2 separate regions of the Homo sapiens genome follow, and region 2 is linked to region 1. The links come from fine-mapping of genetic effects on gene expression. A gene starts in region 1. The other region holds a variant in brackets. All regions are shown on one strand. Distances are from middle to middle.

Region 1 (5,377 bases):
CATTAGGCTATTTTCTGGATGACGGCATAAGGCACAGTCTTGTGACATTAAAAGTTACTTAGCCTGAGTAGTCTCTAGATTACTGGTCTAGGGTCTGCCAAAGACGATCCTCATGGGGAAGTTTTTGCACTAACCTCTCCAGGATTCAAATCCAATGGTTTTGACCCAAAACCATGCTGTTTACGTTACACAACACGTTCTCAATCTTGTTCAACTTAAAAGGTGGCACAGTACAGGGGTCACTGGCACACATGCCTACATGACAGATAACATAAGTGACAAAAGCAGACTCAGGTCGAGAAGGGTCCCTGGCATTTGGGAAAGTCCATGCCCAGTCTAGAACAGGCAGCCACTCCTTGGCTTCAGCCAATTGTTGCCACACAGAAATGTGGACACAGTGTTACCAGACAAGGCAGAGAGGCAGATTTCTGTTCACACAGAAACTTTTCAGTTTAAAAAAGTGTTGGCAACTAAGTCAAACTGCTTAGAAATACTGGAGATGGCATATTGGGAGGGTAAGGAATCATCCAATTGAATTGGGGTATTTACGATGGGGGAGAAATAGCAGCTAAAGGATAAGGGCAGCTTTTGGAGAACCCTGATTGTCACACTCAAGGAACTTATATATTGTCATCTAGGTCTGAGTGCACACTAAATAATTTAAGCAAGAACAGGACACGATTAGAATGGTATTTTTAAAAGATCACTTGGCAGTTGACGGGCGAGGCTGAGACCAAATGGTGAATTAGAAGTCTGTCATTTAGCTAAGTAAGGGTAAAGGCAAGACGGCAAAGGCCTATTTACTTGGCTTTTTCTCCTACCCGACTGCAAACTCCAAGACAGCAGGGCCCCACCTGCCTTGTTCATTGCTGTGTCTCCAGCACTAAGCAAAAAGCCTGTTCAACATTTGTTGAAAGAATAAATGAACAGGAGAGAGGGAAGGCGAGAGGCATTTTGAAGGACTGAGTTTAAAAATCAACTACCTTGAAGCCGGTCGAGGTGGTTCATGTCTGTAATCCCAGCACTTTGGGAGGCTGAGGCGGGTGGATCACCTGAGGTCAGGAGTTTGAGACCAGCCCGGCCAATATGGCGAAGCCCCGTGTCTACTAAAAATACAAAAACTAGCCGAGAGTGGTGGCATGCACCTGTTATCCCAGCTACTCAGGAGGCTGAGGCAGGAGAATTGCTTGAACCTGGGAGGCAGAGATTGCAGTGAGCCAAGATTGTGACACTGCCTGGGCGACAGAAAGAGACTCTGTCTCAAAAACAGAAAACAAAACAAAACAAAACAAAACAAAATCAACTACCTTCAGAGGAGTAGAATGTTGGTAATTGTGAGAGCAGTCATGGAGGGGAGGGGAGCCATGGAGGCCTGTTTCCTTCCCTGAACTTCCTCAACGAGGGGGCATCTTAAAGAAGAAATCATGTACACAGATTTTTGTGGGTTTTTTTTGGAGACAGGGTCTCACTCTGTCTCCCAGGTTGGAGTGCAGTGGCATGACCATAGCTCACTGCAGCCTACAACTCCCGGCCTCAAGCAATCCTCTCACCTCAGCTTCCCAAAGTGCTGAGATTACAGGCGCGAACCACTGCGCTCGACCCTACACAGGTTTTTTAAAAAGACGTTTGTGCATTGGATTCCTGGCACTTCACGTGGCCTCTTCAGTCTACCAAAGAAGGAAAAGGTAAGTACCCTGAAGGATTGAAAGGATTAAATGAACATTGAGGGATGAGCAATTTCTGTTCTTCCCTGGCTCCAGCATTACCAAAGCACACAGTAAGAGGACTGACATCGGCCTCCGACCCAGTGAGGATTACTTTCGGGGTGGAGGGGGAACTGCTAAACCTCGAATCTCCGGGACTGGCCCTGGCGCGTTTCCAGTCCCAGCAGAAAGGGCAATCCCCATCCAGACCACACTCCTAGTCCTCCTTATTCCCACACAGCCCGTATCTTGACCACCCCCAGCTCCGCCCTCTCTCCTCCCACCTCCTTTTCCCGCTCCCCCGCCCCATTTCCTTCTTCTCCGCCCACCTCCTCCTGGGTCCCTCCCCCGGCCATCCGCCCTGCCCCGGCCCCTGCAACCCTGCCTTTCGCTCTTCTTCCTCCTCCCTTCCGTCTGCGCCCCTCCCGTGGGGCCGTGGCAACCCCGTGCCTCGCTTGCCCAATGAGAACACGGTTTGGGGCGGGGCGCGGCCAGGACCGGAGCGGAAGTGGCGATCGGAGCGGAAGTGGAGCTACCGCCACCGCCGCCGCCGATTCCGGAGCCGGGGTAGTCGCCGCCGCCGCCGCCGCTGCAGCCACTGCAGGCACCGCTGCCGCCGCCTGAGTAGTGGGCTTAGGAAGGAAGAGGTCATCTCGCTCGGAGCTTCGCTCGGAAGGGTCTTTGTTCCCTGCAGCCCTCCCACGGTGAGTGCGGCGCGGGGTCCGACCGGGGCCCCCGGGGGCCCAAACTCGAAGCCCCTCTCTGGCTGCTGCGACGACGGCGGCCCAGTGGGTGGGCCCCGTGGGGTAGCGGCGCGCTGCCTCTTTCGCTCCGCGCGGCCGCCGGCGGCGAGGCCAGACCTCGCAGCGGCCCCTCCCTGTTTCCGGGGCCGGGCCCTTTACCTCTTGGAGAGGCTCGGGCCGCCTGAGGTCCTGCCGGCCGGGCGGGGTGCAACTCCGTACTGTGCCGTAAGGGACAGCGGAGCCGGGGATCCCGGACCCTCCCTCACTATCTGCTTCGGGCCCCACGCGACCCCTCCCTGCGTCTTGGTCGGCAAGAACGTCCCCTTCAGCCCTGTCACCTCTGCTCCGTGCTTTCTGGTTTCCAGAAATTAAAATTTAATCAAACGCGGATGAGTTTTCTAGCCCCAGTCCCCGTGTTTGGCTCCTCCTGGATGAGTAAGGGGTTTAACCTTGGGAGACAGCAGTGGGGGAACCCCCTCCCATTTTGCAGTAAAACCATTTCATCATCCTTCACTGGTTATGGAGCCTGGCAGGACCCAAGATTCCCTAGGAAGGGAATTGGGTTTGAATCAAGAAAATCTGTTTGTTGGAGCCGGTTACTGAGTCAGGCCGGATCCCCAGGAAAAAATATCAGGGGGTGAGAATCGGAGTATTTTCTCACAGTATTTACCGTCATTTAATGCCAGATTCTTTTGTGTCTTTACCCCAAATTCCCCCATATTGTGTGTTAGCACGTTTTTCGGTCTGAAATTTGCCCGGTGGCTTCCTGGTCGGGGGGTGGGGAGCGGAGGGAAGAAGAGGTGGGAAGGTGAGTGCATCTTTGCCGCAAATGGAGAACTCCCATATAATGGGGTTTTCAGAGGTGGCAGCCTTGGTAAGCAATTTGCCAACCTTTCTGTAAAATACATGTTTCTTGTCGTTGCCTTCATTGCATTTCTCTTTGGTAAGGCTAGATAGCATCAGGTCCTGATTTTGCTTGCCCTGTGTGGGAGATGGAATTTGGCAAGATGATGCTATGAACATAAAATCAGCCTCGGGAACCAAAAGAGAAAGGTGAAGCACTTATAAGAATATGAAAATTGTCTGCATTTCTCATTCTGTCAGTTCATGTGAAGCCAGACACAGATGCAGTTTGTAGACCTGGACACTGCAGCTTTTGCATTTTCATTTGGAAATGTGTATAAGTATTTGTTCTTGGTGAATTTCTTCTTGACTGCTTCCAGTGTACCCTATTTCTTACTTAGGGATATCTCATTTGTTTGAGCCCTCATTTTTCTTGGATCCCTGTCCTTGGCAACACACGGTGTGTGAGTGTAAAACCTGTCAATCTTATTGGACCTAAGTTAGAAATTTAAGTGTGGCTTTCAAAATGGAAGGCTAATAATCCTGTAGCAACTGCAGAATTATTTTCCTGGCCTGTCCTTCCAATGAGATAAGAAACCATTCACCTATCTTGCAGATGAAGTCTTTATGAGAAATGAGGTGATTTGGCCTAGACTATACACCTAGTTTTTTTCAAACTGAATATCCTCATTCATCAGTAGCAAATATTTATGGATTGCCAGCCCCTGGAGTATGACGCCTACCCTGTAATCTTTTGTACATTTCACATCTTGCAGTGCTTGTTATATTGAAGCCATTTTAGAATTGGAGCGCTATAGATCAGGGAGGCAGCCTCTATAAAACCAGGCTGAGCAAATTCCCATGATGCTGGTTCTCTAGGCAGAGTCTCCAGAGATTTGGGCCGCTACAAAAAGTGCATTTTGCCCATTCGGCTGTGGATAGAGAAGCAGGAAGAGCACTGGACTTGGAGTCAGGTAAATTTGGTTGAAATCTTGCCTGCAATATTTTCTAGCTTTCTGAATCTTCAGCATGTTAATCTCTGGTTCTTGGTTTTCTTATTTCCAGGGTTATCATTAAGCCTTTTTTATAAACTGTAAATTGTTAAATATAAGCTTTTGGTTTGTTTTTTAATCAGAGTTCACTATTAATGGCTTTTTCTCTCCAGTTAACATCTGATGACACTAAACCCTGCTTTGTACACATGTTGCTTTCAAAAAATGGTATATTATTATAGGACTTTATTTTGCATATAGGCAAATCCAGTCTTTCTGAATCATTTTCTCGTCTATATAGCACAAATGGTAATGCAGCTTTTGATATATTTTTGTTGCGACAAGCTCAATAATGAAAATAAGCATCTGGGATATAGTTGGGGTTCAATAGATGTTATTGACCATCTGCATGAATATACACGTGTATAGATTAGACATAGCATATATGCTATTCATGGACATTTATATAGAATCCATCCATTTGTGATTTATTCACCAACTGATGAGGTGGTATCAGACAATTAGTCTATAATAATAGTTACCACTTACAGTACTTACTGTGTGCTAAGCTTTCTTTTAAGCACTTTAAGCATATTAGCTCAGTCTTCATAACAACCAATGAAAGGTAAGACTGTTAGCCCCATTTTACAGATGGGGAAACTAAGGCACTGAGAAGGATAATTTTCCCGAGGTCTCACACACAGCGCAAGGTAAGTGCCAGAACCAGGAATGAAACCAGGTGATCTGGTTCTGAGGAATGATATTATAGATTTCTGCATGTGGTAGAGACAGCACATGTATATGTTTTATGTGAACACCATTTAGTCCTTAATTTTTCTTTACACCAATCCTAATAAAGTAAACGTTTGAATGGGAATATTAGCTATTTTTGAAGATAGATACAGGACAATTTATTGTGGAGCATATACCCATTCTGGCCTGTAGGGATGATAATTGCTAGCATGCATCAGGAAGCAAGCTTGTGAACAATCCAGTTTTTCTAGTACTTGCTTCATACTAGGGAGAAAGTCATCAGTTACTTTGGCATAGAATTTTAGGTTCTTCATCTAATAGAATTTGATTGTGACCATTAATT
Region 2 (5,377 bases), 890 kb after region 1:
AGGAGAATCACTTGAACCTGAGAGGCAGAGGTTGCAGTGAGCCAAGATTGCGCCACTGCACTCCAGCCTGGGCAACAGAGTGAGACTACATCTCAAAAAAAAAAAAAAACTAGCCACTCACCCTTGTTCCACCCTCAACCCACATTCTCCAATAAAAGAAAGAAGGTCAGCAGGTCTAAAAGAGACTGACCTCCACCCCCACCAGGGCTTGAGAAAGACATCTATGGCAAGTCACTCTCAGTTTAGTTTCCACCCTCAACCCACATTCTCCAATAAAAGAAAGAAGGTCAGCAGGTCTAAAAGAGACTGACCTCCACCCCCACCAGGGCTTGAGAAAGACATCTATGGCAAGTCACTCTCAGTTTAGTTTCCACCCATCTCTTCCCTAGCCACACCCAACCAAAACCCATTTTCAGTGTCCTCACAAAGAATGGATTACCCATCTGTCCTAAATATGTAAATCGTACAATCCCACAGGCACACACATACCCTCTAGCTCTCCCATATCATCTGAGCCCTCAAATAGCACAAACAAGAGGTCAGCACCAGCCTTTATCGGGAAAGAGAAGCACCACACACCCACTACCCAATCCAGGGCTATTTCCCATGCTCTGGTCAGCGGCAGGAGGAGAAGCAGAGCAGAGAGGGCCATGAGTGCCCCTGGAAATGTCACAAGCCCCAGGATGTCACCCTCTCTTGACTGCCAGGAAAAGCTTCCAGAATTACCAAAGAAGCTCCAGACAAATCAGCACAGCTAGGGCACCGGGATCTCTGCAAGTAGAAGAAACATCAAGTCACAGCTGTGCCCTCCTGGCTTCAGCTACCTGAAATGTTTTCCCTCCACCCTAGGAAAGCTTGGCCTATATTGCTCTCAAAAGTCTTAAATAGCTCCTTGCTTCCCAGACAATCCAATCCAAACTGGCACTGAAGGCTCTTATTATTCAGATGTCAACCTTGTATCTCCTGTTATAAAAAACTGGAATTATGGTCGGGCACAGTGGCTCATGCCTGTAATCCCAGCACTTTGGGAGGCCAAGGTGGGTGGATAACCTGAGATCAGGAGCTCGAGACCAGACCTGGCCAACATGGTGAAACACTGTCTCTACTAAAAATACAAAAATCAGCTAGGTATGATGGCAGGCGCCTGTAAATCCCAGCCTTGGGAGGCTGAGGCAGGAGAATTGCTTGAATCCAGGAGGCAGAGGTTGCAGTGAGTCGAGATTGTGCCATTGCACTCCAGCCTGGGTGACAAGAGTGAAACTCCATCTCAAAAAAAAAAAAAAAAAAACTGGAGATACGTCTGTTCCTTTACCCACCCTGCCCCCACTCCTCACCTCCCAAACATATCCCACACATTCCCACCCTGTGTTCCTTTGCCAGCAATCACCAGATTGCCTATCTGGCATGTCCCTGTGCTATCCTCCCTTTGTCGCATCTGCCTAGCCTTAAGCACCTCAATCAAATCCCACCTCTCCCACAGAGACCTTCCCAGGGAGCCACACCTGGGAACAGGTGTAAGCCTGTACTGTTTATATGAGGGTTCTCATCTGGGACACAGGTTTGCCACACCTGAGAACAGGTGTAAGCCTGTACTGTTTGTATGAGGGTTTTCATCTGGGACATAGGTTCTTTCTCTCCAACTAGACTTTTCCTGACCTTCTGAAGTCCCCTTCCCAGCACCTAAGCCAGTGCTTTGCACATAGCAGTTGTCTGTTATTGTTGATGACAATGGACTGTACTCACCTAATTCGGAATCAGACCTCACAGTCCAGTTGGGGTTCATGGTCAGTTTTGGGGGCAGGACTGGTGGGACACAGAAGCGGCCACAGCCTGACTTGCAACATTTTTCTCCAGCTTGACAATTCTCATCCATCACACAGCCAACAATGCACAGGCCCACCAGAACTTTTGGACAATCACCGCCCCGCCCTGTGGGAACAACAGGCACAGGAAAAGGGACAGGGCATCAGCTCTGCCATCTCCATGTTCCCATCGTGAACTTACACACAGAGGCTCTAGGTCAATCAACCCCTGACCCTCACTAGACCCAACTAAACTGGCTGGGAAACCATGGCGCTGGAGGATCTCAGAATCTTTAGGAACCCAAGAGACCTCTGAGCCCAGAGTTTTCAAATGGTGCCCCAAAGGGAGTTCCCAAGAGGTAACTCAGGGATTGACACCTCTGCAGGTTTGGGGTGGGGGTGGGTGAAGTGTGGCAGGGGCAAGCCTCCCAGACCACTCCCCCTCCCCCTATGCTCTGGATTCATAGTGTCACTTCTTCACGGTGGCCTCCTCTGCCACCCTAGACAAGGTTTGATGTCCCTGCTTTGTGCTCCTGTAGCACCCTGTATGCTTCCTCTCATCAAACTTTATCATAATCCCTTATTTAAAAGGAATATGTCTATCTTGCCTGATGGGCTATAAGCTACATACGGACAAGAGTCTGTCCTCAGCCTTGAGCACTGCCTGGGAATCTAAAGGGACTAAGATAGCACAAGGGTCAATGATTCTTTAATGGAGATCCACAGTGCCTGGCACTCAAAAATATTTGTTTTTTTAAAATGTTGAAGAAAAAAAGGCATTGGAACAGGAATGCTTTTATCTCTGTGTGTGTGTGTGTGTGTGTGTGTGTGTGTGTGTGTGT[G/GTGTGTGTA]TGTTTCCAGCTGGGCGTGGTGGCTCACGCCTGTAATTCCAGCACTTTGGGAGGCCGAGACAGGCAGATCACGAGGTCAGGAGTTCAAGACCAGCCTGGTCAACATGATGAAAACCCATCTCTACTAAAAATACAAAAATTAGCTGGGCATGGTGGCGTGTGCCTGTAATCCCAGCTACTCAGGAGGCTGAGGCAGAAGAAACCCCAGAGGCAGAGGTTTCAGTGAGCCAAGATCACGCCACTACACTCTAGCCTGGGGTACAGACCAAGACTCTGTCTCAAAAAAAAAAAAAAAGAAAAAAAAGAAAAAAAAAAAAAATATATATATATATATATATATATATGTGTGTGTGTGTTTCCAACTAAGATTTCATTTGGGGCAGGGGAGAAGCTTTTTGTTAAAAATTAGATCTGAAAATCAGGATCTTGGGCAACTCCTTCATTTTACAGATAAAGAAATTTGGGCTCAAAAAGACGGGTTTGCTTACCTAAGGTCACAAAGCAAAACCTCAGCAGAATCAAGACCAAAAGCCACACTGTCTGTCTTCCAGCCCAAGTAGTTCCTACTGCCCCACAGTGCCTTCCCCCAGTTCTTTTAATGTCGACAGGGCCCCTCGGCCCTAGAAGAATGGGTTGCTTTGGGTTGGGGGACCAGAGGGACAGGAAGGATGAGAATCCTAGCTCCTCCCAGGAAGGGAAAGAGAAGCACTCTTCTCAGGAAACACTCAAGGATTTCTTCCCAAAAGAGCCAACATACCTCCCTCAATGTCTCCGAGGCAGGTGCGGCCACAGCCGGTGCTGCAGCATTTATGCCCCTGGGGACAGGATGCATCCCCATCACACAGCTCCTCACACGGAAGGGGGTCAGCGGGACATTCACCACCAAACTCTGCTACATAATCAAAGCATTGGAGCCCAGAGACGCTCACAATATGAAACACATTTTTCATTGTGTCCCATGTGTATGTTTATATATAGTTATATATTTATATACATATATAATGTAAATATTTATGTGTATCATGTATCTGCAATACATCTGATTTTTTTTAAGACAGGGTCTCACTGTGTTGCCCAGGCCAAAGTGCAGTGGCATAATCATAGCTCACTGCAGCCTCAAACTCCTGCATTCAAGGGATCCTCCCACCTCAGCCTCCTGAGTGGCTAGAACTACAGGCACATGCCATCATGCCTGGCTTATTTATTTATTTATTTTGTAGAGACAGGGTCTCACTGTATCACCCAGGCTAAAGTACAGTGGCACAATCATAGCTCATTGCAGCCTGAAACTCCTGTGCTCAAGGGATCCTCCCACCACAGCCTCCTGAGTACCTGGGACTAGAGGCACAAGCCACCAGGCCTGGGTAATTTTATTTATTTATTTTGTAGAGACAGAGTCTCACTATGTTCCCTAGGCTGATATCAAACTCCTGGCTCAAGTGATCCTCCCGCCTGAGCCTCCCAAAGTGCCAGGATTACAGGCGTGAGCCCCCCCACCCAGCCCACCCTGATATTTTATATTCTAGTTCTTATTTTTCCTAATTACTAAATTGCTTTCAGGACTCACAGTTTGAAAAACACTGTTCAGGTCTAACCCACTGTGGCCAACATTCTCCCTGAATTCTCCCTGTGGCAGACATTTACAATGGTGGCCTCCAGTGAACTTTACCTCCTGGGATTCAGGCCCTTTTGTAGTCCCCTTCCATACCTACTCTGGGTTTGACCATCTGACTTGCTTTGACCAATGGGACATTAGCAAATGTAATGTAAGCAGAGCCTTGATAAGCACTAGCATACTGGGGCTTGTCCACTCAGAATACTTCCTCTTGGAAACCAGCCGCCATGCTATAAAGCAGCTTGAACTACGCTATGGGATGATGAGATGCCCCATGGAGACAGAACCTAGAAGAGAGGTCATCCTGGACGTTGTGGCTCCAGTTGAGCTCCCTGCTAAGCTCCCAGATGAATGCAGCTAAATGAATGACCACAGCTACATCATGTGGGTATATGAACTGCCCAGCCAAGCTCAGGCAACCTACACAACTGTGAGAAAGAGTAACTATATTGCTTTAAGTCATGAAGTTTGGAGATGGTTTCTTATGCAGCAATAGATACTGGATACCAAGTTTATTCTGAGAGGCAACAGGTCCAGCTAAAATGATTTGTTTCCCCATACTCTCTTGCAACAAGGGGTGACCACAAACTAGGACATAAACTGGGAAACTTTTGTATTCCTGACACAGGGAATACCCCTTTCAAACTGCTCCCTCACTTCTTTCTTCTTCCAGTCCAAAGATAGACATTACACAGAGAGGCAGAGTAGCCTTCTTTCAATGAGGAGGCAACTCAGCATAACGAAATGGTCAAGAATTGCAAAGAGGTGTTGTATGAAAGGAGAGAAGGTTAGCACTCCCCTCGACAAGGATGGAAGAGGCCTTTGGGCCTGACAACATGCATATGGTTCAAGCATTGCCACCTACTTTGTGGCATCTAACCATCGTCTTTTAAAATAAATAAATAATAAAATGTAAATGTAAAAAAAAAAAAAGAATTGCAAAGGAGAAAGAGGGAAATAGTTTCATCCTTGTTAGCATCATGGAGCCACCATCCCAGCCTCAGGAATTCTTGTTATATGAGAAAAACAAACCCCTATATGATTAATTTTCTGTTGTGTGCAGCCAAACACATTTCCTATGAAAATAAACTCAGAGAAGAATCTTGCCCAGAACTACA

The links.
Region 2: its variant is fine-mapped to the expression of YWHAB in lymphoblastoid cells after a statin (CAP, PIP 0.93).

Annotation. Positions count from the first base shown.
Region 1 is chr20:44,883,480-44,888,856 of GRCh38, forward strand. YWHAB (tyrosine 3-monooxygenase/tryptophan 5-monooxygenase activation protein beta) reads left to right here and starts at 2,226. Exons shown (of 6, transcript NM_139323.4): 1 at 2,226-2,407. RefSeq lists silencers at 1,850-1,909, 1,970-2,519 and an enhancer at 1,956-2,572.
Region 2 is chr20:45,773,674-45,779,050 of GRCh38, forward strand. WFDC3 (WAP four-disulfide core domain 3) reads right to left here. Exons shown (of 7, transcript NM_080614.2): 5 at 3,402-3,536; 6 at 1,744-1,929; 7 at 540-771. The coding sequence ends at 755. It also overlaps the pseudogene RNU6ATAC38P. Among named protein-coding and RNA genes, the nearest start is that of WFDC3, 16 kb to the right of the region's middle. RefSeq lists enhancers at 1,904-2,073, 4,277-4,571. The variant G/GTGTGTGTA (reference allele first, on the strand shown) is at 2,645.